Regions from separate parts of the Homo sapiens genome. Here region 2 is linked to region 1. Evidence: fine-mapped expression QTL. A gene starts in region 1. The other region holds a variant in brackets. All regions are shown on one strand. Distances are between the middles of the regions. Region 1 holds the start of P2RY12 (purinergic receptor P2Y12). Region 2 holds the start of LOC105374157 (a long non-coding RNA gene).

What was found. PIP is the estimated chance that this variant, and not a neighbour inherited with it, causes the effect.
Region 2: its variant is fine-mapped to the expression of P2RY12 in skeletal muscle (FUSION, PIP 0.95).

The regions. Positions count from the first base shown.
Region 1 is chr3:151,374,720-151,390,241 of GRCh38, forward strand. It overlaps P2RY12 (purinergic receptor P2Y12), which reads right to left and starts at 10,034. Exons shown (of 3, transcript NM_022788.5): 1 at 9,973-10,034. It overlaps MED12L (mediator complex subunit 12L), which reads left to right. Exons shown (of 45, transcript NM_001393769.1): 28 at 1,307-1,495; 29 at 2,081-2,155; 30 at 2,272-2,459; 31 at 3,293-3,454; 32 at 5,394-5,505; 33 at 7,937-8,026; 34 at 9,060-9,169; 35 at 9,364-9,499; 36 at 10,311-10,472; 37 at 13,091-13,453; 38 at 15,260-15,416. RefSeq lists an enhancer at 3,349-3,418.
Region 2 is chr3:151,609,374-151,624,895 of GRCh38, forward strand. The region is part of intron 1 of LINC02066 (long intergenic non-protein coding RNA 2066); the gene reads left to right. LOC105374157 (a long non-coding RNA gene) reads left to right here and starts at 10,556. Exons shown (of 3, transcript XR_924581.3): 1 at 10,556-10,636; 2 at 13,923-14,061. It also overlaps a transcript of IGSF10 not described here. The variant ATGTGTGTG/A (reference allele first, on the strand shown) is at 10,057.

The DNA.
Region 1 (15,522 bases):
GAAATAGAACTAGGTTCATTTGGTTTTGCATTATTTAAATTCCTTTCTTGTCCCCAGCTCTGGCTATAGAATAGCTTACTTTCAAAAGTGAAACTATACAAAAAAGTATACTCAGAGATGTGTCTCCCTCCCATATCCCTCTTACCAGATGATCCAGTTTTATTATTTTTTGGTTTATTCTCCCTCCCATATATTTGTTTTAAAAGTTCTCTTATAAAAAAAAAGTGACATACCTTATATATTATTTTGTACTTTGCTATAGGTGTCATACCGACTGGGTCATGTTTTTGTATTTTTACAGGCATGTTATAACTATGGTAAAAGATAGCTACATAGTCATATAAGTATTGAGAGGCAATTGTGTGTTGGTTCCCAACTGTGAGTGCATATTGGAATCAGCTGGGGCATTTAAAACAATTTGGATGCCTAAAAAATTACTGATATTTGGGTGCCACCACCTGAGTTTGACTTAATTAGTCTGATGTGGGCCCTGGGCATGGAATTTTATAAAGATCCCAGGTAATTTTAGTGGGCAACCAGCATTGAGCCACTGGTATGGTGGTTAAAAAACAGACTTCACCCGAAATAGATCTGGGTTCAAATTGGGCTCTGTTACTGTTGATGATTTCTTACTTTATTTAGTATAATAATTTGCCTTTGAAAAAAATGGTAAAGAAAAGGCAATAGGAGTTTAAATTGGTAGAAACTCTTCAGAGGGTCATTAACCCCATGCATCTATAGCCCCCCACTCACACTGGACCCAGCAATTGCACTTCTATGAAATTACCCTAAGAAAATTATTGTATAAAAAAGAGATGTGCACTACTACTCATTTATAATGATAACATTATTCATAATAGTATCAAAAAGGAAGATCGTTTTCTAAATATTTGTTATACTATGTTGTATCTAGTCAGTGAGATAGTACAATGTATTCCATAAAAATTATGAAGAACGTATATCTGATAGAATCATTATATAGCAAGTTAGAAAAAACTGACACAAAATAGTGCCTAGAGCAAGACCTTACTTTCCAGTTAAAAACATACTAATATTCTCTTTATTGTCTTTTCTTTTTTCCCATTAAAAAATGTTTTTAAGCAAGTTCTACTTTGTATTTTTTAGAAGCCAAAATGCTAAAAATTTTGTTTTTTAAAATTTTTCTACCTACTTTTTAATGTAATTTTTTAAATTGGAAAATTCCTATCAGTTTTCTATTCAATTATGCACTGTGGATTTAGTACATATTGCATATATATATACCGAAAGCCAGTGCCTGTCAATCTAATTGCCATATTATTTTTAGGAATGGGTAGGAGAGCATTGCTTAAAAGAACCTGAAAGATTATGTACAGACAAAGAACTTATATTGGACCCTGTGCTTTCAAATATGCAAGCACAGAAATTACTGCAGCTTATCTGTTATCCTCATGGCATTAAAGAATGTACCGAGGGGGACAATCTGCAAAGACAGCACATTAAGCGTATTCTTCAGGTCAGTCGTATACAGATTGTGTTTCTGTCATTTGATAAATTCTTCGTAATAATAAAAAGAGTTACTTCCTCTCTTTTTTTGTCCTTGCTAATTTGTGATTTCAATTCTGATTTTTATTCCCACACATTTTCTGTGGAATTGACATACTTTATTTTTGGGTGGATGTACATGCTGCAAATTGTATATGATCATCAAACAAATATTGATATTTTAAATCAGTATTGTATTTACATGAGAAATATGCTTCAGAGAGGGGCTATGTTAAATATATTATTAAAGAAATATTGAAATCATTTTGGATTGGGATTGGTTAAATAGATTTTGAAAGGAGAAATGCTTATTTAGTTTCAGTGCATAGCTGAGTCAGGCACAGTATTAACTAATTAATAATTAATGTTTCTGTTTATTGGTTTGTATCGCTACTGAATATATATGCAGCAAGATTGGGAACCTTTTGACTCATATAAATTATTTCATTGTGTATGATTATTCTGCTCTTTCTTGAGAGAAGGAGTACTGTAAGAAATTACTGTATTTTAACACATTTGATACCCATAATGTTTTAATTCTTTCCATTTTTCCCAGAATCTTGAGCAGTGGACACTGAGGCAATCCTGGTTAGAACTCCAGCTAATGATCAAACAGTGCTTGAAGGACCCTGTGAGTTTATATTGAAAGCTTATCTCTGTATGAAATTTTATAAAAAGCAAAAACACGTTGATGTTTGAGGATAAAGGAATACACATATGTGCCAGTATTCTTATATCTAACTCTAGGGCTCTGGTTCTGTGGCCGAAATGAACAACTTACTGGACAATATTGCAAAGGCAACAATAGAGGTATTCCAGCAGTCTGCAGACCTAAATAATTCTTCTAATTCTGGCATGAGCCTCTTCAACCCAAACAGTATTGGAAGTGCTGATACAAGTAGCACGAGACAGAATGGAATAAAGACATTCCTAAGGTATTTTTGTCTGTTGTTTTATTGAACTGTCATGAATTTTTCACAAGTAACGGTAAATTTTGTGTAGCACAGTGATTTTTCTTTAAGTCATAGGAATGTGAAGAACATAGTTACTTGTAAGCAGGGATTATTATTAATAAGTTAATGAGTAAAGCTGGGGTGAATGATAGCTTCGGAATATTTGATTGAGTAGGCTTAAACACCTTGAAACTGCAGGTGAACTCAGGTTTGGTTCATGCTTTCAGTGTCCCTTAGTCTACTGTGTTACGTAGTATTCATTATATGGGAAACGCTTTTTCCACCATTTTTATTAATTAATTATTTTGCACAAATATATCCTGGTAATTTTTGTGCAGAATTAGAACCAGTAGGCATATAAAGTCTTAAAGTAATTATTTAATCATGAAAGGCTGATTTGTATTTCATCATTTTGGTATAAAGTATAACTAGCGAATTTTAAACCTTAAAAATTAGCTATTAGTATGCTTACATATAATATTTCATATTGTAACTGTGACAGAAAAGTATATTGTTTGTTGGACAAAGTGATTGTTTTTAATTAGAGAGAGGGGGTCATCGGAAAACATTAAAGTCAGTTTAGTTACAATATCCTTCCAGAACTGCATGTTTTATTGCTTTCTGTAGGCTTAGGTGGAAAGCTCATGCAAATGTCTAGTGTTCGGAAAAAGGAAAGATAATACAGAAATAAAAGGGAAATTTTAGAACAGTCTGTGTGTCTCATACATCAAAGTTTCGCTTTGGAGTTTCTGTTATAACTGTGAGAGCAGGGGAAAGGATGCTTTCTCCGGTGTAACACCTGTTTCTGATTTTAGTTCCTCCGAACGCAGGGGTGTATGGTTGGTGGCCCCCCTCATCGCCAGGTTGCCAACTTCTGTGCAAGGAAGAGTGCTGAAAGCCGCTGGGGAAGAGCTGGAGAAGGGACAGCACTTGGGTTCTTCTTCCAAAAAGGAAAGGGACAGACAGAAACAGAAAAGGTGTGGCTGGAAGATGGGCGTCTGTGTGAGAGTTTAAAGAATAATTGAGAAAGTCTCACTTCCTGTAAACCTGTGTGGTCACTGTACCCACAGTCCACTGAAATTTAGTTTTTAAATGGAACTGGGAATATTCTATTAGGCAAGGCTGTCTTATTCCTAAAAAATTTCAGGTTATAATCCTTAATACATTAGTTCTCAATTCTGCCTTTATATCCAAATCACTGCTGAACTGTTAAAAACAGTGATTTCCGAGACCCGCTTTAGACCAACTGAATCAGATCTGGATAGCTACCTGATCCCTGTATTTTATTTTTAATTATTTCTATTTTTTTATTATTTAGATATTTATGTTTAAAATAAATATAATGTATAATTCTGGCATGTTGGTGTCTGAACTAGTTGCTCATATTTTTAACATTTAGGGCTCCTGTTCTAGACTAGACATTAAGACTCCTCGGCCACCACAACTAATGTTTTCTTAATTTATTTTATGCCCAAGAAAAGGTTTCAAGTAATTATATTTGAAAACCGTGTTACTGAGAAAGAAAGAAACCTCACCCTAATGTGAAAATGCCAAGAAACCTAGGAGTAAAGGAAAAAAATTGATAATTTCTTCCATTAAAAAAATATTTTAAGCACATAGATTTCTTGTCCACTAATGAATAATACTATAGTAGCCACCATTTATTGACTGCTTACAGAATGGCAACTCCTCTCTAAAACTCATTATGTACATGAGCTTTTAAAATTCTTATAGCAATCATGTGGTAGGTACTCTCATTATCTTCTTTATATCATGTTGAAACAGACACTTAAAGGTTACATGAGTTGCTCCAGGACACACAGTGAAGGACATAAAGCCTGGGTTTAAATCCAGGAGGTCTGGCTTCTGAGCTTGTGCTCTTAACTACAGTACATTTTGGTAGAGACCCAGCATTGTATGTACTGTATTTGTTTTACATCTGGTTGTTTTACCATGTTGGCCAGGATTAATTAACCAACAAGGAAGCATAATTCTAATTTTCAAATCATATTTGCTGATAGGTGAGTGTATGTGCATTGCCTAACTTCCCATAGGCAGGACAGATGGTATTGAAGAGACTTGAAAGATCGCTCTTCCCACATCAGGGGCTCTTTATTCTGCCCATGGAGAATAATGCTGATTGAAATATTTTGGCCTAGGTCTCATTTTAAGAAATTTGTCTTTCCAACATGGCGCTTTGTTTGTCAATATGATTTGTTGATTATTCTCTAATTGAAGACATTTTGTTAAAATGCCAATTTAAAACAGAATTTTTAACCAAATGCCTTGACACCTCTTTACCAGTGGATGCTGCGGGCTATGTTGGAGCCTGTGGGCTGTGTTGGAGCTGCACACTAGGGGTCGCCAGCAAGTACACTGTTTTTGGAGTCCTCAGCCCTGGCTGATGAATTAGCTCTACTAACACCCTGCTTTTTGGTCTTGGGAAATGTGCTGAAAAACAAAATCAAACCCCAAAACAAGCTCAACAGACATATATATAGGCCTGTTTTCCCAGACTCTAAAACAAGAGTTTTATATGAGAACTTTAAAAATTTTTAATTTTATCCTGTGTATAAATTGATATTCTTTCTGATGTACATTTTTAAATTCTGCATATTGATGTAGAAGATGAATTCACTGTCTTCTACCCTCACTGCCCGGCATGCTCACATGCAGTATGGTTTGATGCTAGTTTGAGAATGGCTTCGAGGGCAATTAGAGCATACGAAGTGATTTAGAAGCATTACAGTGGCTTTTAATTTTATAAGTAGAGGTATGATTTAAATTTTCAAGCAGTCTTTGGCTATTTACCACCTCTCTTATTTATCTAATAGTGAGGCAAAGAAATGAATGTTGCCAGAGGAAGTAATGCATTATTTCTAACTAGATCTGTTGTTATTATTACTTCCTTTGTAGTATGTCTCTTTTGAGTCAACAACCCTTCCTCTCACTGGTACTTACCTGCCTTAAGGGACAAGATGAACAAAGGGAAGGCCTCCTAACATCTCTCCAGAATCAAGTTAACCAGGTAAAGTATAGTATAATATTAAGACAGGCAAATATCTTTCTAACGGCATTCATTTATTTGCCTTTCAAATACTGAGATTAAATTAATAAGGGCCAGGTGTGGTGGCTCATGCCTGTAATCCCAGCACTTTGGGAGGCGGAGGCTGGTGGATCACCTGAGGCCAGGAGTTCGAGACCAGCCTGGCCAACATGGTGAAACCCCGTCTGTACTAAAAATACAAAAATTAGCCGGGCATGATGGTGTGCGCCTATGATCCCAGCTACTCGGGAGGCCAAGGCAGGAGAATTGCTTGAACCTGGGAGGCAGAGGCTGCAGTGAGCTGAGATCGCGCCATTGCACACCAGCCTGGGAAACAATAGTGAAACTCTGTCTCAAAAAAAAAAAAAAAAAACAACTAGTAAGGTTACAAAATGTTTTGAGTAGACGCTGAGAAACAATCCATGCCTTATTCTTCTACCTGGCATTGTAGACACCACAAGATTAACAACTTTATATTAATGAGATATATACAATAAATGTGTACTGCCTATAAAAGTAAAATTTTATATATTGCATATAACTTTGAACTATCTGCCCGTCTCCTAACTCTGCCTCATAGGAGAGGACCTGGAGCAATCTATGCTGCAGTAGGCATGGCAGTGAGTCCAGCTCCTCAAGCTTGGATGCCACATTATCAGGCACGCTTTCAGCTTGAAATCTGTAGGTTCAGAAACTCAGTTGTATTGATGCCAACCAAGTACACAAGAAATAAATCAGAAGGCATGTTGGTTTATTTAGAAATAATTTGGACATTGCCTTTTCACCAAACACAGTTCTCCTGGTCACTGTTTGAGGCTCTTGCATCTATGTACTATAAGGAAACTGAGCATTCACAACAGAAATTGGAGAGCATGGAATTAAGCAAAGTGGATAGATTGGTCTTATGAGGTGTTTTATCCTGATACACAGCCTAATTGACCCCTTCTTGTGGCACTGTGTTTCTATGACACCATGTCTTTCCCTCGAATGGTACTAGATGGACATGGACAAGGACACTTAATCTTATTTGATCCTCTTGTCATTTCTCACCTTTTGGGTAGGAGAGATCTAGATATAGCAATCATAGTGAACCTTTTTAAATGGAAGTCACATATTACCTCAGTATACCTAGTATAAAAAATTCGGGCTGATAAGGCCAGACATGATTTGACACTGGCTCTCTCTCCTACCTTGTCTCCTACCAGTCATGGCCCTCTTTCCTCCATGGTTGTTGCACTGGCCATGTTACTGTTCTTGAACTTGCTGAGCAAATTCTCATTTCAGTGCCTGTGCATCTTTTCTTCCCTTTAGGTGGAAAGATTCCCTTCCAGAGATTAGCATGGCCTGCTCCCTTCATTCAGTTCTCTGTTAAGATGTTACCTCCTTCGGGAGGCCTTTGATCACCTCTAAAAATAGGACCACAGCCATTCTGTATGCCATTGCCATGCCTCAAACCACTTGTTACACTTAGTTTTATTTGTCCCACTACTATTATTTGAGCTCCATGAGAGCTTGTTGTTTAGTTAACTACCTTGCCCCCTTAAGCCAGCCTTAGGGAGGGGTTCATTTCTTCTGATGAGATTTGGGAAGTGCTTTCCTCTCACCTTGCAGGGTACTTACAGGTCATCTGTTGGGATGGAGTACTTCTGCATGTGACTCATTTGAACTCTTTTAAGATGACTCTCATTAATGACCATATTTCAGAGCATGATAGGGTTTTTGTTAGTGGTTTTTTGTTTTTGTTTTGAATTGCACTTTTTTTTTGCTCATCTCATCTGATTTTAGGGTGTTGCCCACTTGTGGCTCCCTTTCCTAAGCAAATTTTTCCTTTTCCAGCATTAGTGTGAGTCAGTGAGGAAGTGAAGAAGCAGCCCACTTTATAAACTGATAAAGCCACTTGGCTGATGTCTGCAATGCCATATTTTTCAAAGTACCGTGCGTTCTCTTTATCAAGGAAGACACATACATAAGATAGCAGACCTTCTCTTCTATAAAACATCAAAATAATACATTTGCTAGGGTTCAGCAAGTCCCTAGAAATATAACAGGACTGAGGCAAAATGTAATTCTCTCTCTCCAGTGTTTTTCTTCGTAAGATCAATGAGGTAATGTATTTTAAAAGTTTTTATTAATGCTTAATTTGATGGCCCTCTCAAGCATTTTCCCAGACTTAATCATAGGCTAGCTATATAATTATATAAGATTTTCTTCCTCCACCTAGAACGGCAAATGCACAAATAAATAGCCAGATTTCTTTCTGCATGGAGGAAGAAGAAAGCTAAAATTTTATTTAGCTTTGTTTGTTAATTTGTTAAAGATAAGAAGTGGTTTTTTGCTATCAGTATAAAGCTCAATTTATCTTTAAATGAGAGAAAAATTAAACTTTAATGGGGAGTTTTTTTCCGGATCTTAGATTTTAAGTAACTGGAGAGAAGAACGATACCAAGATGACATAAAAGCGCGGCAGATGATGCACGAAGCATTGCAACTCCGCCTAAATTTGGTAAGTGACATTTCTAGTATTTTCCCTCCATTAAACATATTTACATGTGAAAATACCTCCAGCTTTCCACTTCTCCTAAGTGCAAAGTCTGCATTACAAGGTGAGGCCTTCCACTCTTTGCTCTCTGTAATTACTTCCCTGTTTCTAAAGCCTTCTGTTTCCCTTGCTGCTTTCCTTCCTGTCTGGTCAGACATCTAGACAGTGCTAGGTATTTTAAGCATAGATTTGCCTTCTCTACCTCTACCCCAGTGAATCTCTCCTTCTCTTCAGTTTGTGCTAAGAATAAATCTGAGAAGACTGTTATAAGTGTTAGCTTCTACTATACTTACTTAAAACCATTTAAAAAGTCTTTTAACTCAAAGTTTTGTCCAACTTTCCATCAAATTGATTATAAAGACAAATCCCACAGAGAAGTTTTATAGAAATTTAAAATGTCTCACATATTGTGCATTCCTTGAGTTTTCTTTTCCCATCAGGCAGGCCCAAGTGCAGGCCCCTCTGGAGGATGGCCTGCCTGATACTTTTGCAGTTGTTTCTAACCTTGTCCCAACACGTGAACTGGTAGGTGTGCGGGCCAAGCCTCCTGCCCACCACTGCTGTGATAGTGGATGTTTCCATATGGTATTATGATAGCAGGCTTAGATTCAATAGTAATTGTACAGCAAACACAAAGATGCAGATAATTGGATTACATGACTTTGACATTATTCAGGTTTAATTCAACTATAATTGCATCATAAAACTGGACATCATAAAAGATTTGGAACAAAAGAAAGCTAAGTTTATTGGTGCCCACATTCAGATACTCACGTCCCTTCTTCATTTTAGTTAATGTTTGAATGACTGAACTGTGCTGAAAGAACTAAAAATAGTGATAAACATGTAGGTAAAAGAGAAAAGATAAGGTAATCTATAAACTAGAGCATCCCTTGTTTTTTTAAATAAAAAACAATCAAAATTTGATAACATAAAGCAATGGGGTGTTCTTTCTGTTTTACAGAATGCAAATATCTTACTGTATTTTGTCTGCTAGGTAGGAGGAATGTTTGACACGGTGCAGAGGAGCACCCAGTGGACTACAGACTGGGCCCTGCTACTCCTTCAGATCATTACTTCAGGAACTGTTGACATGCACACTAACAAGTATGTTTTTATCACTTCACATTGATTTTGCTACATGTATGCATGGTATAAGCTTTGATATACTGATGGCGATTTCTGCCACATCTTATTTACTTGGATGCTATTAAAAATTCTGTGCCTTGAATAAAAATACTCAGTTAAATAAGTGTATTTCAGTTTCACTTTAAGATGAAAATAATTATTTTCTTTCTTAGTGAATTATTCACAACAGTTCTTGACATGCTGGGTGTTTTAATCAATGGAACGTTAGCCTCTGACCTATCAAATGCATCCCCTGGGGGATCTGAAGAGAACAAGCGTGCATACATGAATTTAGTAAAGAAACTGAAAGTAAGTTTGAGATCAGCCTGTATTATGAGCTCAAGTTGTTTATGGATTTATTATCTAGTGCATTTTAATTTATTACTCATTAAATGTTATTAATTGTATTCAACTTAATTTAATGTGATTATTTGCTATTTGTTTCACCTAACCTTATTAGTACCCAGAAGTTACATGCACATAACCTTGATTATTTTTTATTGAAAACAATTACATTATAAAACATGTTTAATTTTTTAAAGAACTTTAGAAATCCACTGTTAAATATATAACCAGAATACTAACATTAGATAGATTTAGGATAACTCTATGCTTGGACTGGCACGTGTAATTGAAAAAATAGCCATCTGCATTGAAATTTATAAATCGATTCATTTGACCGACCACTAACAGACTCCTTTAAAAAAAAATTGTAAGAAAACAGTGCAAAAAAGAAACCAAATAAATCTGATGCATTACCAATCAAATAAATCAATGGTTACCTTGTAATCTGACCCTGGACATGAGAAAGTGTTCTGTTCTGCAGCTCCTGTCTTCTGATTGTGATCACTACCCTGGATTTTTGTCATTTCAGCACTATGATGTTTGTTGTGTAACAACAGTGCCTTTGTATGTGTTCTATTTTCTACTTAAATAGAAGAAATGAAACACTCATTGCTCTATTTGGAACTGCCTTGTAGAACATGTTCAGGGTTAAAGAACATGCGCTAAGCTATAAAAAGGGAAATGTTTCATAGGGGAACTTCCTTCTGGTTAACTTTTGCCTTCATTGTAATTTCTGTCCCACTTCTCACTCTCTCTCTCTCTCTTTTTTCTTTAGAAAGAGCTAGGAGACAAGCGATCAGAAAGTATTGACAAAGTTCGACAGTTACTACCTTTGCCGAAACAGACATGTGATGTCATCACTTGTGAACCTATGGGTTCCTTGATTGACACAAAAGGAAACAAAATTGCTGGATTTGACTCTATAGATAAAAAACAGGCAAGAGTGAATGTTTTTTCTTATATATAAATTTATTTACAAAAGATGAAATACTTTTTTTTGTCTTACCATAGGATATATAAAATATATTAATTTTGCTGTTGATGTTTTTAAGGCATATGCTTGTCTTCTAAGTGTACTTAGTCATTGGCATTATCATATAAAGAGGTCATATCTTTGAAGATCTACGTTTTATATGTTTAAAGGACTTAAAATGTTTCCCTGAATTTAAGTAAATTTTTGGAAACCTACCAAGAGAAAACTAAGTAAAAGCTTAGTGTAAAAAAAAAATTGCATAAATAAGTTCTGATTATACTTCAGATTTAGAAGCAGAATATATTTATCAATGAAAAATTTCTTGTAAGCTGAGCATGGTGGCACATGTCTTTAGTTCCAGCTACTTGGGAGGCTGAGGCAGGAGGATTGCTTGAAGCCAGGAGTTTAAGGCTGCAATGTGCTAGGCTCATGCCTGTGAATAGCCACTACACCCTAGCCTGGGCAACAAAGTGAGACCCTGTCTCTGGGGGGGGAAAAAAAAAAAAAAACCTTCCTGTAGTAAGCTATTTCAAATAAAAATTATTTTAATTGTTAGGATATTCTCTATTCCTATCAAGCAGTATTTAATGGACATTTGTTTTATATAAGATATTAAAGATGGTTCTCTAAAATATGAGAAAATTGGTCAGTTACTCTTTTAATGAACAGTAAGCAACCACCGACATTCCACAATCACCAAGATGAAAGACAGAGTTCCTACCCTCAAGGGGGAAGTAGACAGACAATTACAGTGTAATGAGATTTGTGTGACATGGTACAGAGAGAGTATTAGGGGATAGAATAGAGGGTCCCCAGGAAAATTGACACGAGTCATTTTGAAGGATTAAGAGTTAGCTGGGAGGTAGGGAAAATTGTGGTACAAATAAAGGGAGAGTTTATATGAAGACATGAAAGAATCAGATTTACCAGGGAATTTAGAGTAGCCTGAGAATCTAATACCAGTTTGTGTAAAGAAAAAAAGCTAAAGTCATGGTCAAGTTTGAGTTTGCAGTGTCAGCGGACTTCCTGGTAGTAAGACATCTGGAATCCATTTGGATGTGTGGTTTTTACACCAAGGAAAAAGTTCTCATCTCAAGACAAATATTAGGAAACAGTCAATTTACAGGTGGCAATTGAACCTTGGTTTTATTTTGTTTTACTTTGTTTATTTATATTTTTTGAGATGGAATCTCGCTCTGTCGCCCAGGCTGGAGTGCAGTAGTGCGATCTTTGCTCACTGCAACCTCTGTCTCTCGGGTTCAAACGATTCTCCTGTCTCAGCCTCCTGAGTACCTGGGATTACAGACATGCACCACCAGGCCCAGCTAATTTTTTTTTGTTTTTGTCTTTGTTTTTTTTTTTTTTTCAAGACAGAGTCTTGCTCTGTCACCCAGGCTGGAGTGCAGTGGCGTGATCTCGGCTCACTGCAACCTCCACCTCCCGGGTTCAAGCAATTCTCTGCCTCAGCCTCCTGAGTAGCTGAGATTACAGGTGCCTGCCATCATGCCTGGCTAATTTTTGTATTTTTAGTGGAGACGGAGTTTCACCATCTTGGCCAGGCTGGTCTTGAACTCCTGACCTCGTGATCCACCTGCCTCAGCCTCCCAAATTGCTGAGATTACAGGTGTGAGCCACCACACCTAGCCTTTTTTTGTATTCTTAGTAGAGACGGGGTTTCACCATGTTGGCCAGGCTGGTCTCAAAGTCCTTACCTCAGGTGATCCCACCCGCCTCAGCCTCACCAAGTGTTGGGATTACAGACACGAGCCACTGTGCCTGGCCTGAACCTTAGTTTTAGATGAAGCTACTCATAAAAGAATGCATATAGATAACAACAGTAACACTTACATCTTAGGGAATGACTGAGTAGTTATTTGGGGGCCATTTAAGGAAAAATATTTTTAAATTGACATTTTAAGGCAAGTGCCAAGAGATGTCACCAATTAATGTTAAGAATAAAAAGAGGGTAACCGTTTTTTTTTTTCTAGAGTCAGTAAATATAAGCTTGAGTTGAAAGACTTTACTTATTCCTGCTGCTACAATTTAATTCTCTAATAATAATATTATATTCAGAGTATGGCTTATTAAGTACAGGGCCCACATATTGAACCAAGTTCATGCAGATTTGGATTGAAGTTAATACTAACCCAATTACAGGTTGACTATAACTTGACTCTTAAATTTGATATTATCTTCAAAATTATAAATAGATTACAGAGATTTAGAACTGGTTATAATTTAGTAAGATTAACTTTGCAGTGTTAGAATTTTTAGCAACAAATTTTTAGAATTTTTTTAGCAAAAAGAGGAAATACACATTAACAATAAAATATGCTAGACTGCCTCTGTTGCCTAAACAGAGCATCATGTGGTTAAAGAACTGTAGAACCGGGCTTACAAAGGTCTGAATTCTAGCCACTGCTCTCCGGTGATGTAGCTGTGTAACCCTCTCTGCTGTATTCTCGGGTTCTCTAGGGCTCATGCCAGCCAAAGTGTTCTCTGACTCCATGTCCCATACAAGCCTGGCCTATGAATAAGGAAAAGATCTGAGTGTGCTATCTTAGAGCGCTATTTTCCCACAGGGTCTCCAGGTCTCTACGAAGCAGAAGGTGTCCCCGTGGGACTTGTTTGAGGGTCAGAAGAACCCAGCTCCTTTGTCCTGGGCCTGGTTTGGGACAGTCCGAGTGGACCGAAGAGTGATCAAGTACGAGGAGCAGCATCACCTCCTGCTGTATCACACACACCCCATGCCCAAGCCCCGCAGTTACTACCTCCAGCCACTGCCCCTGCCTCCTGAGGAGGAAGAGGAAGAGCCCACATCTCCAGTTTCTCAGGAACCAGAAAGGAAGTCCGCTGAGCTGTCAGATCAGGGAAAAACCACAACAGATGAAGAAAAGAAAACAAAAGGAAGGAAGCGCAAGACGAAATCTAGCTCAAGAGTTGATGTAAGTGGGGAAAGGAAGGAGAACCTTGGCTCATTAGCATTTAGTATGAGATTTACTCGTGCCCAAATCATATCCCTCGAAACATTACCAAGAGCAGGATAAGTTTTGTTATGACAGTTCTCCTAACAGGTTTCTGCATTAACTGAATGGCACACAATGACTTGTCACAGACAAAAGATTAAAGCTTTTGATTTTCCGTCCTCCACTTTTAATAATTTTATTTTAATTGTAGGCTTCCATTGTAATATTTAATTAATATTTCAGTGCCTCCTAATTTCCTCGGGTTTGAAACTTGAAATTTTTAGAACTATACAATCCCATTCTCTCACATATTTTTAATATGTCTAAAATATTTATTGTATTTTAAGTGGTTGATATCTTCAGTAAATTAACATAAAAAGCTCTATTTGGTTTTTCTTTGATAAAACTTGGAGTTAGCATAGCCAATAGGATGTTCCTGAGATTTTATGTTTTACTATTCCATCTTACCCTCATATATTTTCCTTCTTTACCATGTTTTCAGACTTTATAAAAGATGAAAATAAGCCTAATTTAAAATAGTTTTACTTCTTGTTTCTCTATTAGTGTTCCCCACGTATAATAATCTTTTCATTACAACAGAAATCTATTTGATGGTGATTTAGAAATAATTTTATAAACCTTGAGAAGTAATGCATAAAATGTTTTTCTATTTAAATTAAATTAAAACCTGGAAAATATTTGATAGAGGATTTGAGACATTTTTAATGAAATTCCACAGCATTCTTGCTGCACAGTGGAAGAAATATTCACCATTTCATTCAGATATTCATGATTGGTTATTGTTTACCTATGTGAGAACTAAAATACATCTTTTCCTAGCTGATAGCTTGGTGATTAATACTATTTTAGAAATGACCACCACCACTTTAGGATGCCACTTGAGCATCAGTGCCCCCTTCTCATTCAGTCTTCCTACCAGTATTCCTTTGTCTTGAAGGGAAGTTTAAAATGGTCCAGACTGACACTCCCTCAAATTTGGGGTTTCCAGCCTGTCAGTCCACGTGGATGGGCTTTTGTTCTTTTCTGATGAAAAAGCCCTGAAACCAATCCTGCTCCCCAGGTCAGTCTGGTCATGTCCCCTCTTCCTCTATTCTTCCTGAAGCTCCCTCTTTTCAATGAGATATGCTCTTCAGTAAAATTGCAGGGAAATGAGATTTTGTTTCTCTTCCATCCTCTAGGGCTAGACTAGATGAGGGAAGGTAGGGAAATTGAGACCTTCAGGTGTGATCCTTACAGGCTTTGCAGCTACTATAAGGAAGAGGAAGCATGGGGGATGAGGGGAGTGTCTACTTCTTTAGAACGATGTCTGGAAAATTGCAAGTGAAATACCATCTTGGCCAAAGAGTGGTTCTGAAGCACTGTAGGGCTCTCTGGCGTAATTCTCCAGACCCAAGATATTGGAAAGGCCTTCTAAGATGAAATGATCATGAGTCTTAGCAACTGAAGGTGCTTTTTCAGTGATGAGTGTCGTTCAGTATTGGTATTCCTGACACACTTGTAGTCTTTTGAAATAGAATTCAGAAGAGATCCTTTTCCATCTCTGCCCACTGCAAGCCAAGCACTGTTTAAGTCAAGGAAAAGTTTACCTCAAATGAATATTTCCAGGGGATTTATTAGCACTCTTCCTTCCATCTTCTCCTTTATAAAAAACAGCTTTGTACATTGGGATAGGAGGTACCTCAGATAGCTTACTGAAGTTATTTGCATTAATTAGCTGTGTGATATGTGGAGTTACGTAACTTTTTAAAAAACTTTATGTTGAAGGAATATCCACAGAGCAACATATACCGAGTGCCTCCTAATTACTCGCCTATCTCCTCCCAAATGATGCACCATCCACAGTCCACCTTGTGGGGTTACAACCTCGTGGGCCAGCCCCAGCAGCCCGGCTTTTTCCTTCAGAACCAATCTCTTACTCCAGGTATGTGATGAGAAAGCACAGATCACTCAGAGATGAGAAACAGCTTGTGGTTCTCTTTGCTTTTAACCTGAAACCTCCACAAAACTTGGACATTTCAACCACTGAG
Region 2 (15,522 bases), 230 kb after region 1:
TAAGTTACCCGATCTTCTGTACTTTTAAAAAGAACACTCTGAGAAGCCGGATGGTTCCCTTTGTAAGTGATCTGACCTTTTTCTCTAGCTGCCTTTTGACTTAGCATTCCCATTACTCAGTATATACCCAAAGGAAAGCCAATTGTTCCACAAAAAAAAAACACATGCACTCATATGCTCAGCACAGCACTATTCACAATAGCAAAGAAATCAATCTAGATGCCTATCAACAGTGTACGGATAAAGAAAATGTGGTACATATACACCATTAAATACTGTGCGGCAATAAAGAGACTGAAATCATGTTCTTTGCAGCAACATGAATGCAGCTGGAGGCAATTACCCTAAGTGAATTAATGCAGAAACAGAAAACCAAATACCACATGTTCTCACTTATAAGTGGGAGCAAAACATTGGATATACATGTACACAAAGATGGAAACAGTAGATGCTGGGGACTGCTGGTGGGGAGAGAGAGAGGGAGCAGGAGCTGATAACTGTCTATTGGGTACTATGCTCATTACCTGGGTAATGGAATCAATCATATCCCAAAACTCAGCATCATGCAGTACACCCATGTAACAAATCTCTACATGTACCCCCTTGAATCTAAAATAAAAATTGAAATGACTTTAAAAAATCTTTTAAAATAAAAGAACACTCTGGCTGCTATAAGGAAAGTGGATTTTGACAGGGCAACAGTGGTGATGGAGAGACTGGGTAAGTAGGCTATGGTCTCAGTCCAATAGAGAGATGATGGTAGTTTGGATAGGATGGTGGCAGTTGGGTGGAAGGAGAGCATTGGTAAAGGAAATATTGTGAAAGAGGAACTGATAGGACTTGCTACATATCTGATATCTAACTTCCTAAGAAAGAGAATCAGAGTAGTGAATCTGTCATTCAAATATTGATAGAACATTTCCTATTCCCAATACAGAGCATGATGCCATCTTATAGGCCACCGGTTTTCCTTGTGTCTAGTCAATAAATGAGTACTCTAGGATCTGGAGCTCAAATGAGTCATGGATCAAGCTGTAGCTCACATGGGACAAAGCAAATTAATTGATACAAAATGAAAAACTTTATATGGAGGCAGTTTATAGGTGTGATAGCTAGTCAGACTTTCTTAGATTCTTTTTTAATGATCATTTTTGTAATAACAATTGTTTTATTAAATGACAGAACTCAGATGAAGGTGTGTGCAAATAAGTTTTAATTACATTCAGATAAAACATGCATATTTCTAAGGAGGCCAAGTGTCTTTGTCCATTTCCTGCTGATGCAATGAAATGCTACAGACTGGGTAATTTATAAATAGTAGAAATTTATTTGGCATATGGTTCTGGAGGCTGGGAAGTTCAAAAGCATGGCACCAGCATCTGCTGAGGGTCAGTCTATGGCAGAAGGCATTACATGGAGAGTGAGCATGTGAGACACAGAGAAAATGGGAGCAAACTTATCCTTGTATAGGACCCACTCCTGAGATAACTAATCTACTCTCTAGATAATGGCATTAATAATAATCACCTCATAAAGGTCCCACCACTTAATACCATCACAAGGACAATTAAACTTCAGCATGCATTTTAGAGGATACATTCAAACCATAGCACCAAGGTTTAGTTGACTGGGTATATGTTTGACAGGCCTTAGGCTGTCCAGCTAATCTATAACTTTGTAAAGTGCACATAGTAGGTTGGTTCAAAAGGAAGAAGAAAATATTAAATGATTGTTGTTGGATTGTTATAAATCAAGTTGGGAAGAAACAACTGAGAATACACATTTTCTAATTTAGCTTGTCATATGCAAAAATTCACATATGTTCAAAGAAACCTTACAAATGATAATATCCCACCTTATAAATGATATCCCTATAAAATAACACCTGGAAAACATATTTTAATGTTTTCACTGAAAACTCACCAAATGTTTATTTTCAGTTTCCAAATCTTAAAGTACTAATCTATGGCCATTTATTATTTGTACAATTTGAATGTGAAGGCCAGCTACTTTTGCCTGAGGCCACATGGGCAGTGCATACAGTTGTGAGTGTGCAGAGATTCAGTATCTTGATTCATTGACCTATGAAGTAAGAAATCCTTGATTTTCTTTCTGTAAGTAGAGGCAAAGGGGAGAAAGAGAAAACACGAGAGCCAGAACAAAAATAATGTCTTTCGGAATTTCTTTTTCCCCATGGATTTCTAAATTCTCTGAAATGGATATCTTCCATGTGTTCTTAAAAAAGGATTTTTGTTAGCCAGAGAAACTTTCCATCAGCTTTCTTGCTTGCCAGCATTATTAAGACCTCCTGACATGATGTGTGTTAGCCCAATAAAAACAAACTCTACTTCTAAAAGTTTAGCTGTATGTAGAAAAGCAGCTTAAATCATATATTTATTTTGCTGCTTGTATTTTAACCTGACTTCTTTCCTTCCGTTTTCAAGAATTATTAAGATTTATTACTTGGAAACTATACTAAGCACTGAACTAAAAAAGAAATATTAACAAGTTGACCAAGAACTATGTACGAATTTCCTTCTAGGTTGAGCCACTGACTCACCTTCAGTCTTAAGTCATTTTGCCAATAAATAGGAAAATCAATTACATGTGGAAAGTTGTAGAGCTCAGATAATTTGACCAGCAATAGAGAAGCCAACAAAATGGATAATAGGACTATTTCCTTTCTCTTTGGTCTTCCCCTTTCCCTGTCCCCAAATGAATGTTTCAAGTTTCTTTTGTGGCAGTATCCATCTTGCAGTTTCTTTTCTTTTGCTCTTGCATGTGGCATTGCACTTCGTGTCAAGTTCTCATAGCATTTCCTTCTTCTCCTTCCCAAACTTGCTGAAATCTCAGTACACCAAGAAAACTCTTGAAAATGAATTGAAAAACATTTCCTGTCTTATTCAAGCCCCTTGGATGTGGTTCACACAGAGTGTGAATAAGATGATTTCATAGTACAATCCTAGGCTGTTCTAATCATAAAGGACGTCTCATTGTGTGACACACACATACCACAGAACCAGTAATTTCAGCATCATGGAAAATACTTTTACAGGTGGTGATTAGCCTCCAAGTTTTCTTTAATAGCAAAAGGTCAGAATGGCCTGTATAATTGTTTCCCTTCAAAGAAGTCAGAGGGATAGAGCAATAAGAGTATAGAAGTAGAAAAGAAGATGCTCTCCACTCCCTAAAGAACCCATTCCCAGGTAATAGATATCTGCAGCCAACTTATAGCTGATAATTCAATTAAAAGAGAGTGATTTCCTTATATGATACGAACAAAGGTAAAACAATTAGCGATATGGGCATACAGACTGTAATAAGTTTATATTTAAATTTGGACTTTAAGCTATCAGATAAAGACCAAAAATTCTCAATGAGTGTTGAAGACCTGGCATCAAGACATAGAAATTTGTAGGCAAAGGACAGATACTTTTGAAAAGAAGACACACACTCTGCCAACAAGCATATGAAAAAAAGCTCAACACAACTGATCATTAGAGAAATGCAAATCAAAACAACAGTCAGATACTATCATCTGCTTTTATACTGTTGGTAGAAGTGTAAATTAGTTCAACTTTTGTGTAAAGCTGTGTGGCAATTCTTCAAATAGCTAAGTCTCAGGATACAAAATCAATGTACAAAAATCACAAGTATTCTTATACACCAATAACAGACAAACAGAGAGCCAAATCATGAGTGAACTCCCATTCATAATTGCTTCAAAGAGAATAAAATACCTAAGAATCCAACTTACAAGGGATGTGAAGGACCTCTTCAAGGAGAACTATAAACCACTGCTCAATGAACAAATGGAAGAACATTCCATGCTCATGGGTAGGAAGAATCAATATCGTGAAAATGGCCATACTGCCAAAGGTAATTTATAGATTCAATGCCATCCCCATCAAGCTACCAATGACTTTCTTCACAGAATTGGAAAAAACTACTTTAAAGTTCATATGGAACCAAAAAAAGAGCCCGCATCGCCAAGTCAATCCTAAGCCAAAAGAACAAAGCTGGAGGCATCACGCTACCTGACTTCAAACTATACTACAAGGCTACAGTAACCAAAACAGCATGGTACTGGTACCAAAACAGAGATATAGACCAATGGAACAGAACAGAGCCCTGAGAAATAATGACACATATCTACAACTATCTGATCTTTGACAAACCTGACAAAAACAAGCAATGGGGAAAGGATTCCCTATTTAATAAATGGTGCTGGGAAAACTGGCTAGCCATATGTAGAAAGCTGAAACTGGATCCCTTCCTTACACCTTATACAAAAATTAATTCAAGATGGATTAAAGACTTAAGTGTTAGACCTACAACCATAAAAACCCTAGAAGAAAACTTAGGCAATACCATTCAGGACATAGGCATGGGCAAGGACTTCATGTCTAAAACACCAAAAGCAATGGCAACAAAAGCCAAAATTGACAAATGGGATCTAATTAAACTAAAGAGCTTCTGCACAGCAAAAGAAACTACCATCAGAATGAACAGGCAACCTACAGAATGGGAGAAAATTTTTGCAACCTACTCATCTGACAAAGGGCTAATATCCAGAATCTACAATGAACTCAAACAAATTTACAAGAAAAAACAACCCCATCAAAAAGTGGGCAAAGGATATGAATAGACACTTCTCAAAAGAAGACATTTATGCAGGCAAAAAACACATGAAAAAATGCTCATCATCACTGGCCATCAGATAAATGCAAATCAAAACCACAATGAGATACCATCTCACACCAGTTAGAATGGCGATCACTAAAAAGTCAGGAAACAACAGGTGCTGGAGGGGATGTGGAGAAATAGGAACACTTTTACACTGTTGGTGGGACTGTAACCTAGTTCAATCACTGTGGAAGTCAGTGTGGCGATTCCTCAGGGATCTAGAACTAGAAATACCATTTGACCCAGCCATCCCATTACTGGGTATATACCCAAAGGACTATAAATCATGCTGCTATAAAGACACATGCACACGTATGTTTATAGCGGCACTATTCACACTAGCAAAGACTTGGAACCAACCTAAATGTCCAACAACGATAGACTGGATTAAGAAAATGTGGCACATATATACCATGGGATACTATGCAGCCATAAAATATGATGAGTTCATGTCCTTTGTAGGGACATGGATGAAACTGGAAACCATCATTCTCAGCAAACTATCGCAAGGACAAAAAACCAAACACCGCATGCTGTCACTCATAGGTGGGAATTGAACAATGAGAACACATGGACACAGGAAGGGGAACATCACACACCGGGGACTGTTGTGGGGTGGGGAGAGGGGGGAGGGATAGCATTAGGCGACATACCTAATGCTAAATGACAAGTTAATGGGTGCAGCACACCAACATGGCACATGTATATATATGTAACAAACCTGCACGTTGTGCACATGTACCCTAAAACTTAAAGTGTAATAATAATAAAATAAAAAAATAAGAAAAGGTAAAGTGAAGTATAGGAATTGGAAGTGAGGTAACAGAAACAGTAAAAAAAAAAAAAAAGAAGCCTGTAATGTAATAATTATGGTGATATCAATGAAAATTGAAACTTTTACTAAAAGCAATGACAGCTATTCTTGTAATGATAGATGACTTTGGAAAGCCTATGAACTTCTAAAATATGTTTAAAAGCATTTGCTAAGGTCAGAAAAATTTTAATGCCACATTTTTTGGTAAGTTTTGTTTACATATTTACATTTGAAAAAATATGCATGAAACCTCTATTTTGGGTCAGACAATGTTCTACCCTCTAATGTTACATTTGATTAAAATGCATATGTTAACTGAAAGCTACTTCATTTATAAGATTGAATGTCAAGGTTTTTTTGTGAGTTATAGCTATGAAAAGTAATTTACCCAAAATGATGGTGTGTTTTTTCACCTTTAATGTCTATATCACTATTTTTAATTTATAATTTTCTTAAACAATTTTTATATTTATTTCACCATATAAATACAGACTTAATTTTCATTTTAAATTTCTCTTATTACATATTAAAAGCTAGTACCTAAAAAGAACTACTTTTCTCCTATATTGTTCCATGTATGCTGTGTCTTAATTACTTTACTCTTCTTTTACTTAAAATAAATTAGAGAACTCTGAATATGTGAAGAAATTTGCAGTAATGGGAAATAAGACATTCAAATTATGCTGGGCATATGAAATAAGCTTAATGAGAACCTAACAGTGCGGAAGTAGGAAAAATTTTAAGTACGCTCTTTATGGATCAAATAAACTACAAAGGGAAGGAAATATGAAGCGCTGAAAGGAAACTATAAAAAGCAAGGGCAGATAAAAATTATGAGCTTTAAGGGAGTGATTAAATAGAGCTTTAAGGGAGTGATTAAAATAGCATACAAAGGTCGAGAAGAATCCTTTTTAGGATAAAGATAGAAAAATATTAACAGTAATTCTTAAAATGGCAAAATATTCAGTTAAGCATTTAACTATCAACTGTGACAACTTGGAGTTATGTTAATTTATAGGGATTCGTTTATTTATCCACTTACCAAATATTTATTTTGTTTTTGTTTGTTTGGTTGGTTTTGTTTTTTGAGGTTTTTTTTTTTTTTTTTGAGATTAAGTTTCACTCTTGTTGCCCAGGCTGGAGTGCAATGGCGTGATCTCGGCTCACCACAACCTCCGCCTCCTGGGTTCAAGTGATTCTCCTGCCTCAGCCTCCCAAGTAGCTGGGATTACAGGCATGCGCCACCACACCCAGCTAATTTTGTATTTTTAGTAGAGACAGGGTTTCTCCATGTTGGTCAGGCTGGTCTCGAACTCCCGACCTCAGGAAGTGATCCTCCCGCCTCAGCCTCCCAAAGGCCTGGGATTACAGGCATGAGCCACCGTGCCTGGCACTAAATATTTATTTTGTTATTACTCTTTTATTTTCTATTTTGTTTCATTCATCCAACATATATTTCAGTCTTCAAAAATAATGCCAATTAAGTGTAACTTAATGTATAGAATTAACTAAAATCTAACATATAAAAACATAGAATGGTGTTATTATATCCTTTTCTTTTTTATGGACATTCATTAAGTAAAAACATCTCTTAAAGGAGAGAGTGGTTTTGTATCTTGGAGAATTCTTTCATAGAAAACACACACTTCCAAAATAAATACTTAGGCCCCTTTAAAGGATATTTTAAACATAGAAAAGGCAGAATATCAATGCAAAAGACTAATATATTTGGGCACATAAAAGTTAAACAAAAACCTTTTCTACATTAAAATATTTAAATTCATTATTGACAAGCTGAGTAAAAATGCTTTCCACAAATAAGTTAACTGATTGATTAATATTCTAATTTATAAAGAGCATCTATCCATTCATGCATCTATGTATCATCTATAGAAACCTCTACGAAATGCGTCTTATTCTGTTTTCTGTTGCTATAACTGAATATCTGAGACTGGGTAAGTTATAAAGAAAAAAAATATTTTTTACAATTCTGGAGACTGGGAAGTTCAAGGTTGAGGGGTGGCATCTGGTAAGGGCCTTTTTACAGGTAAGGACCCTCTGTAGAGTTTCAGGGTGGCACAGGACATCACATAGTGAGAAGGCAAGGCTGCCTGAAGCCTTTAGGGCCCAATGCCTGCACTGGTGAGCCCAGGATGCTGGAAATGGAGTCAAAGGAGATTATTCTCCAGCTGTAAGATTTAAAGTAGTTTTCCCTGTTGGGGTTTAGACTTACTTGGGACTTGATACTACTTTCTTCTTCTCCTCTTCTTCTTCTCCCCCTCCCCCTCCCCTCTCTTCCTCCTCCTCTGCCTCCTCCTCCTTCTTTCCTCCTCCTCCTCCTCTTCTTCCCCCTCTTCTTCTTCTTCCTCCTCCTCTTCTTCTCCTTCTCTTCTTCTTCTTCTTCTTCTTCTTCTTCTTCTTCTTCTTCTTCTTCTTCTTCTTCTTCCCCTCCTCCTCCTCCCCCTCCTCCTCCTCCTCCTCCTCCTTCTCCTTCTTCTCCCTTTTCTTCTCTTTCTTCATCTTCTTTTTTTTTTGTTGGGGGGATGGCTATTTCTCCCTGAAGGAATGGGAATGCTTGTTCTATTCCTGTCTCACAATTGTATTTTTGGAAGTAGATAACTTGTTTAATTTCAAAGGTTCATAACCGAAGGAGAATTTACTTCAAGATGAATTGTCACTTGAGTATCACCCATATCTGATGCAGATGAAACTCTGGACTTTGAACTTTTGAGTTGGTGCTGAAGTGAATTAAGACTTTGGGGATGTGAGGGTAGAATGAATCTACTTGTATGGGAGAAGAATATGAGTTTTGGGGGGCCAGGAGCAAAGTGTTATAGTGTGAATATTTGTCTCCTTTGAAACTTATGTTGAAACTTAATCCCCAGTGTAACAGTATTAAGAGGTGGGCCTTTTAAAAGTGATTGGGTCATGAGGGTTCTGCCCTCATGAATGGATAAATAGGTTAATGAATTAATAGGTTATCATGGGAGAGGGTTAGTTATCACAAGAGTGATTATGTTATAAAAGCCAGATTAGCATGCTCTAGCCCCCTCATCATGAAGCATCCTGCATCGAATAAATGGTCAAGAACAAGTATAAACAATTCAGAAAATAAATAGACATGTCTGTTATAGACTGAATGTTCATGTTCCCTCACATTCAAAGATTTAAACCTAATCCCCAGTGTGATGAGGAGGTGGGGCCTTTGGGAGTTAATTAGGTTAACTAGGTAATGAAACCCTTATTAATGGGATCAGTGACCTTGTAAGAAGAGACACAAGAGAGATGATCTCTCTCTCTCACTGTGGGAGGATACAGCAAGATGTTGGCCATCAGCAAACCAGGAAGAGAGTCGTCACCAGTAACTGAAGCGCTGGCACCTTGCTCTTGGACATCTGTCTCCAGAATGTTAGGAAATACATTTCTATTGTTTTAACCACCCAGTCTATGTTATATTTGTTACAGCCACCCAAACTGATTAAGATGCTAAAATGTTTTAAAATTTCTTTGAAACAACTTTCCCATGAAACTATTTAGTAATGGACATAAAGAAGTTTTAAAATGTCTATACTGTTTGCCGGGCGCGGTGGCTCACGCCTGTAATCCCAACACTTTGGGAGGCCGAGGCGGGTGGATCATGAGGTCAGGAGATCAAGACCATCCTGGCTAACACAGTGAAACCCCGTCTCTACTAAAAATACAAAAAATTAGCCGGGCGTGGTGGTGGGTGCCTGTAGTCCCAGCTACTCAGGAGGCTGAGGCAGGAGAATGGCGTGAACCCAGGAGGCGGAGCTTACAGTGAATCGAGATCACACCACTGCACTCCAGCCCGGGCAACAGAGTGAGACTCCATCTCAAAAAAAAATAAAAAATAAAAAATAAATAAATAAAAAATTAAAAAATTAAAAATAAAAATAAAATAAATAAAAAATAAAAATAAAAATGTTTATACTGTTTTACTATGTATGCCAGGAGGCAAGTACAAGAGCAGGCTTTTTTTCATATATTTTGTAAATAAATAAACAGAGATGTGAAGTTTTCCGAACTTTCAGCTATCACTGAAAGTCTCATACAAAGAAATACAAATATTTATGTACAAAGACCCTATCACGGTGTTTTCAATAGTAAGAAACTATAAATAATCTAAATCTCTAATGAAAATTAATAAATAGAATAGTTACATAAAATGAAGTAAATATGTAAATAAAATATAATGTAAATACTAAAAATAAAGATTTTAAATTTTTTATAGAAAATACCAAACATACAAAAGTATGGAGAATAAACATATAAAGATCTCACATGTAGTCATCATTCAGCTTGAACAGATATCAACTAAACACTAGCTTATTTTTATTATTCGCTTATCCATTGGCCTCCCCCTGCTTCCACCTTGATTATTTTGAAGGAAATCTCAAGCATCGTATTACTTCACCATAAATATGAATGTAAAGTTTTTGAAGTATTTATGATAAAAGCAGAACATTTTTTATAATATAACAAGAGAAAAAGCAAATTATAAAATGGCATATGAAATAGTATTTCAATTACTTTTA[ATGTGTGTG/A]TGTGTGTGTGTGTGTGTGTGTGTGTGTGTGTGTGTATGTAGTGGAAAAACAAATTTGTGGTAATAGACCAAAATTTTAAGATGGATTTATCAGACAGTTGAGAATTTATATTTGTTTGTATTTTTTCCAGTTTTTAATAATGAATATGCATTTTATGATTAACCCCAAATATTACTATAAAAATAAGTGGGTATGTAAATTTGATATGGTTTAAATGTATCCTGGAAAAGCTTATTTGTTAGAGGCTTGATCCCCACTGCGGCAGGGTTGAGAGGTGGAATATTTGGGAGGTGATTGGGTTATTGGGACTCTGCCCTCATGAATTTATTCATCCATTCATGGATTACTATATTAATGGGTTGATAGGTTAATGGGTTAATAGGTTAATGGGTTATAACAGGAGTGGGTGAGTTATGAGAGTGAGTCTGTTGTATAGTCAGTTTGGCTGTCTCTCTAAGTTCCCTCACCATGGGATGCATTGTGCCATCTCAGGACTCTCCAGAGAGTCGCCACTGGCAGAAGATTCTCCAGAGACAGTCATGTGACATTGGAACTCTCAGCCTCCAGAACTGTAAGAAATAAATTTCTTTTCTTTATAAATTATCCAATCTCTGGCATTCAGTTATAGCAGCAGCAAACAAGCTAAGACAAAATTATACTTTAATAAAACTGTTAAAAATAAAATAAGTGGTTATCTTTTAGGTAATGCCATTCAATGAAGTTATAAATATGAGGAAATATTGTTAAAAGAGGAAGTGAGTTAAAAAATGTATAACTTTAGCTGTCATTTAAAAAGTGAATAAAAAATACTTTGTGTTTTTATAAATTAGCTCATGCTTCCTCCTTTTGGGGGATAACAGAATCTAAGGTAAATAACACAAAATCAGCTTCCCCATTATAGATAAACTGTTCTTCAAAACTGGGGAATATATATATAAATTCATTTTAAGGCTACTATTGGCCCTTAATGCCATCAAAGACCACTAGATAAACATATTGATCAAGTAAAGCTCAGTTAATTAGACTTACTACACTAAAGGAGAACATCAACATGTTTGAGATTGTCAATAAATTCTCTAAAGAAGGAAGTTACAGGAAGAAAAATATACAGGGCATTGGGTGGTTTTAAGGCAGATTTTGCAAGATGGAGCTGTTTGGGATTGGTCAGGGTTTGGAGCATAATAACTTTGGTTTGGTGGGCATGGCAAGGAAAGGGTCCAGAAATACGCTATTAGTCTTAAACACTAAGCTATTTTTGTTGTTTCATAGTTTTATCTTCTAGAGCATGTATTTACTGCAGCAAGTAGCTAAGTGACTTTTGCCTAGCTCCAGTTTTGTGTAGCACAGAAACAGGAAAATATCTTTGGTCCTTGAACTTTCTATCCCAGGAGCAGTAAAGTAAATTGGGTTCATTTCTTATTTTAAGAAGTTCAAAACGAATCCAAGGACAACACAATTGTGCTCCTCTAGTTTTTTTGTTCCATAAAACATTATAGTCTATCTCCTTTTAATTTTGTTTTAAAAATTTTATTAATAAAGACAGGGTATTTTTATGTTGCCCAAGCTGGTCTTGAACTCCTGGCCTCAAGTGATGCTCCCACCTTAGCCTCCTAAAGTGCTGAGATTACAGGTATAAGCCACCATGCCCAGACTCTATTTCCTTTTTTAATAGTCAAACTCCCATCATTTTATTCACTTAATCAATTGATCTCTTATGTTTGCAGCATTGTGCCAGGTGACAGGTACAAAAAGTTGAATGAGCATGATCTTGGATAAGACAAGCATGCAAAGAAATACGCGCAAGAATTTGTAAGATGCTGTTGAAATATTATGCAGAGGGTACATAAAGCACAAGGAGGAAATAGTGAATTCTATTAGGATATGGGGTGGTTGGACAAGATTTTATACAGAAGCTAACCCTTGATCTGAGTTTCAAAGAATAAGGAGAAAGGGAAGGAGAGAACAGAATGGAATTGTAAATTAAAAAAAAACAAGTGTGAACGTTTGGGAAACTGCTAGCTAATCAGAACTACAATTTAAAAAATCTATAAGTATTACTTAGGAATATTTCACTCTTGCTTATGTTATGTTTTCTTTTCAGAATGTAGGTCTTATTTCTCTAATTAAACCGAAAGGATCTTGTGTATATAAAATGTCTTTTTATATACCTCATGTCACTTAGATCTGTGTCTACAGAATGTGGAAAAAATACTTTGATTGGTAAATGATAACTGAGAAGAGTAGGAGAAAAAATATTGTGATCTGGACTACTTATTTTAACCAGTTTAACAAATGACTGTTATTTATGAAAGATTTTCACTGGACAGAATATACTTAGGTGATTCCCACAGGAGTTCAATCAAGTATTTTCTCGTCAACTCTACAATTTATAATTGTTTCCAACATTCAGGGTCAGATTATTAATAACATTATTATTAATAACCAAACTCATAACAAGAGTACTTGCCTGATATTGATGCTCAGTAATTTTGTGTAAAAGAAATGGATGCGTATGCAAATCACATTCATATTACCAAGGGTGAAGAGAAGTCAGCTAGGCATTTTGGGGAAAGCTTTATTTTTTACATTAATAAAACAGAACTCTGTGAGCTTTCCTCTCCTTCTTTCCAGTTTGTGATTCTGGTTTGTGATTTATAATGATAAATCTTATCCAAGAGCAAGGTAGGCTTTCCTTTTGAGCAAGTATGTTTCTGTCTTTCAGAAGCATTCTAAAACATTTCTTCACTTTCTTGCTAATTATTCTGTAGTTATACTACCTTTGCCTAGAAATACTACATATGATCTCTTATATAATGTTTGAAAAATGGTTATTGCTTTTATTGAAGCATGTTTATGTTTATACCAGATCTCTTATAGTTTGTAGTGGTTTTGACTTTGAGTCTCTTTTACTTGAGTGTCTTGTTTTTTCAATCTCTACAATCCTATCATTTGAAAATAATGTTAATTTTGCTTCTTTTTCTGCAAGTTCGGTAACATACTTTTCTTTCTTTCTCTTATCCTTCCCCCACCCCTCCTCCTTCCCATCTTTCTTCTTCTCCTCCTTTCTCCTTCACTGCCTTTCTCCCCTTCTGTTTTTGTCTTAGAGTGTTAAAGTTAATTAGAAGCTGTTTATCATCTGTATCACCTGTATTCTTAAGCTTGATGCTAGATCTTTTAGTTATAAATGTATTTATAAATAACCAGAAAATGTCCATCTTTTGCTATTTTATGAATGATTTTAATCCATAATGATTATTAACTTTTACCAAATGCTGTTTCAGCAACTACAGCAGTTATGTATCAATATGGGTTCAGGCCTTATGCTGGTCTCTCCATGCTCTAAGGAAGAGAAACAACTCTAGTTTTAACTCTGTGTGAATGAGTAGATCTATTTCAAATTGGGGGTAGGGGGATATTTAGAAATAGCATTGCTAGTCATAGGTTAGAAATTTACTTCTGACACATTTTATTTATTTGGATAATATCCTTTACTATGCTTTTTGAATAGAAGGCTTAATTCAATTTAATTTCCTTTGTGGGATGTGGGGATGTTACTGTAAGATATCTGACTTGGAAGAGTAGTAATAGAATCATCGTATCCAACAGATATAGGCACTTTAGCATTGGTTTCTTCTATAACACAAAGGAGTTAGACAAAACAATCCCCAAAGCTCCTTTAGTCCTAACATTCTGTGATGCTCCCGTGATAATTTAATTCAATTACCTCCTTTCACAGAGAAGGAAACTGAGTCCCAGAGAATAAACATTGGTCAAGACTATACATGGTACTTAACTGGCAGCATAAACAAACTGGAAGGCACAATGCTAAATTCACAGCTCGTTTCGTTGTTTCTTAGAGTGTGTTTCAGAGCCAGCCACTTAACTGAAGACAGGAATTCCAAAATATTTATCTACCAAAGAGTTGGCTCAACTTTTCACCATAGCATGACTGAGTGAACATATTTGAGTTATCAGTTCTCCTATTTCATGACACAGGTATGCTACAATTTACAATTTTAATTTTTTTATTTAGGAAATTATAGATAAATAAGTAAATGTAGATCTTACTATTATTTCAAAATGTTCACATAAAAATCTGTGGAACTTGATTACTCTATTGCCAAATTAATAGACAACTAAATCTTAAATTAATTCCTAAGTTTACTATTCATTTCAATGGCGCATATAATATGTTCTTTTTATATCTGTAGACTAGATAACTTGTTTTCATAAAATCAAACCATAGGAAAGTCAAGATTTCCTTTTCCCATCTTCTCTTTATGGCACAGTCAAGGAAGCATATCTATCTTTGATATATTTGCAAACATTTTGTGTTCAATATGGTCCAACATTTTCCTAAATTTAAAGTTAAGTATAACATAGTGCCAAAGCATACATCTTTATTATCAGTAAATATATGTCAATAAATATTATCAATATTTGGCAATAATAACATTGTATTTATATTTTTCAAATTGATTTTACTTTACCATTTTACTGTCACAGTATATTCTTTCCTTAGAAAGGGTGAAAGGGCTTTATAGCCTGGGAAACTGAGGCACAGAACTTTGGAGTCACTTTCCATCCCACACGTTTTGTTGTTGCTGTTGCTTTTTTTTTTTTTTTTTTTTTTGAGACGGAGTCTTGCTCTGTCACCAGGCTGGAGTGCAGTGGCGCGATCTTGGCTCACTGCAAGCTCCGCCTCCCGGGTTCAGGCCATTCTCCTGCCTCAGCCTCCCGAGTAGCTGGGACTACAGGCGCCCGCCACCACGCCCGGCTAATTTTTTGTATTTTTAGTAGAGACGGGGTTTCACCGTGTTAGCCAGGATGGTCTCCATCTCCTGACCTCGTGATCCACCCGCCTTGGCCTCCAAAAGTGCTGGGATGCTGGTATTACAGGTGTGAGCCACCGCGCCTGGCCACACTTTTTTTTTTTTTAATGCAAGTAGAGAAACAGCTCTCTAGTAATAGTAACACACACACACACACACACACACACACACACACACTCAAAACCCCACTCGTCTTGGTTCTTAGCTTGGTGCTTCTTTCCTTTAGCCTCAGTGCAGAAAGCGCCATGTATTTGAATATTCAAGTCATTCACCTTTTGTAACTGCTTGAGAGACAATACTAATGAAAAAATATGTTTCACGAGCCATGTTTTCACTCCTGAAACATTCAGTGTCATTTATTGCTTTCCAAGTGTGTGGTTTGAAGACACACACATATTTTCTTTAAAAATCTGTAGCTTTGCTGAAAATAAATCTGGCTCATAAAAATAAAGAAAAAACTATTATTTCTTGGCAGCTCTGAATGTATGGCTTTAATTTCAATAAGAGTACTATCTTAGATTATTTATTTATTGATTATCTTGGTCGTTTAGTAAGAATTTTCTGAGCACCTGTATCTGCCTATTTTAGGTGAAGGGGATATGGCAGGAAAACAATTTCTGTTTTC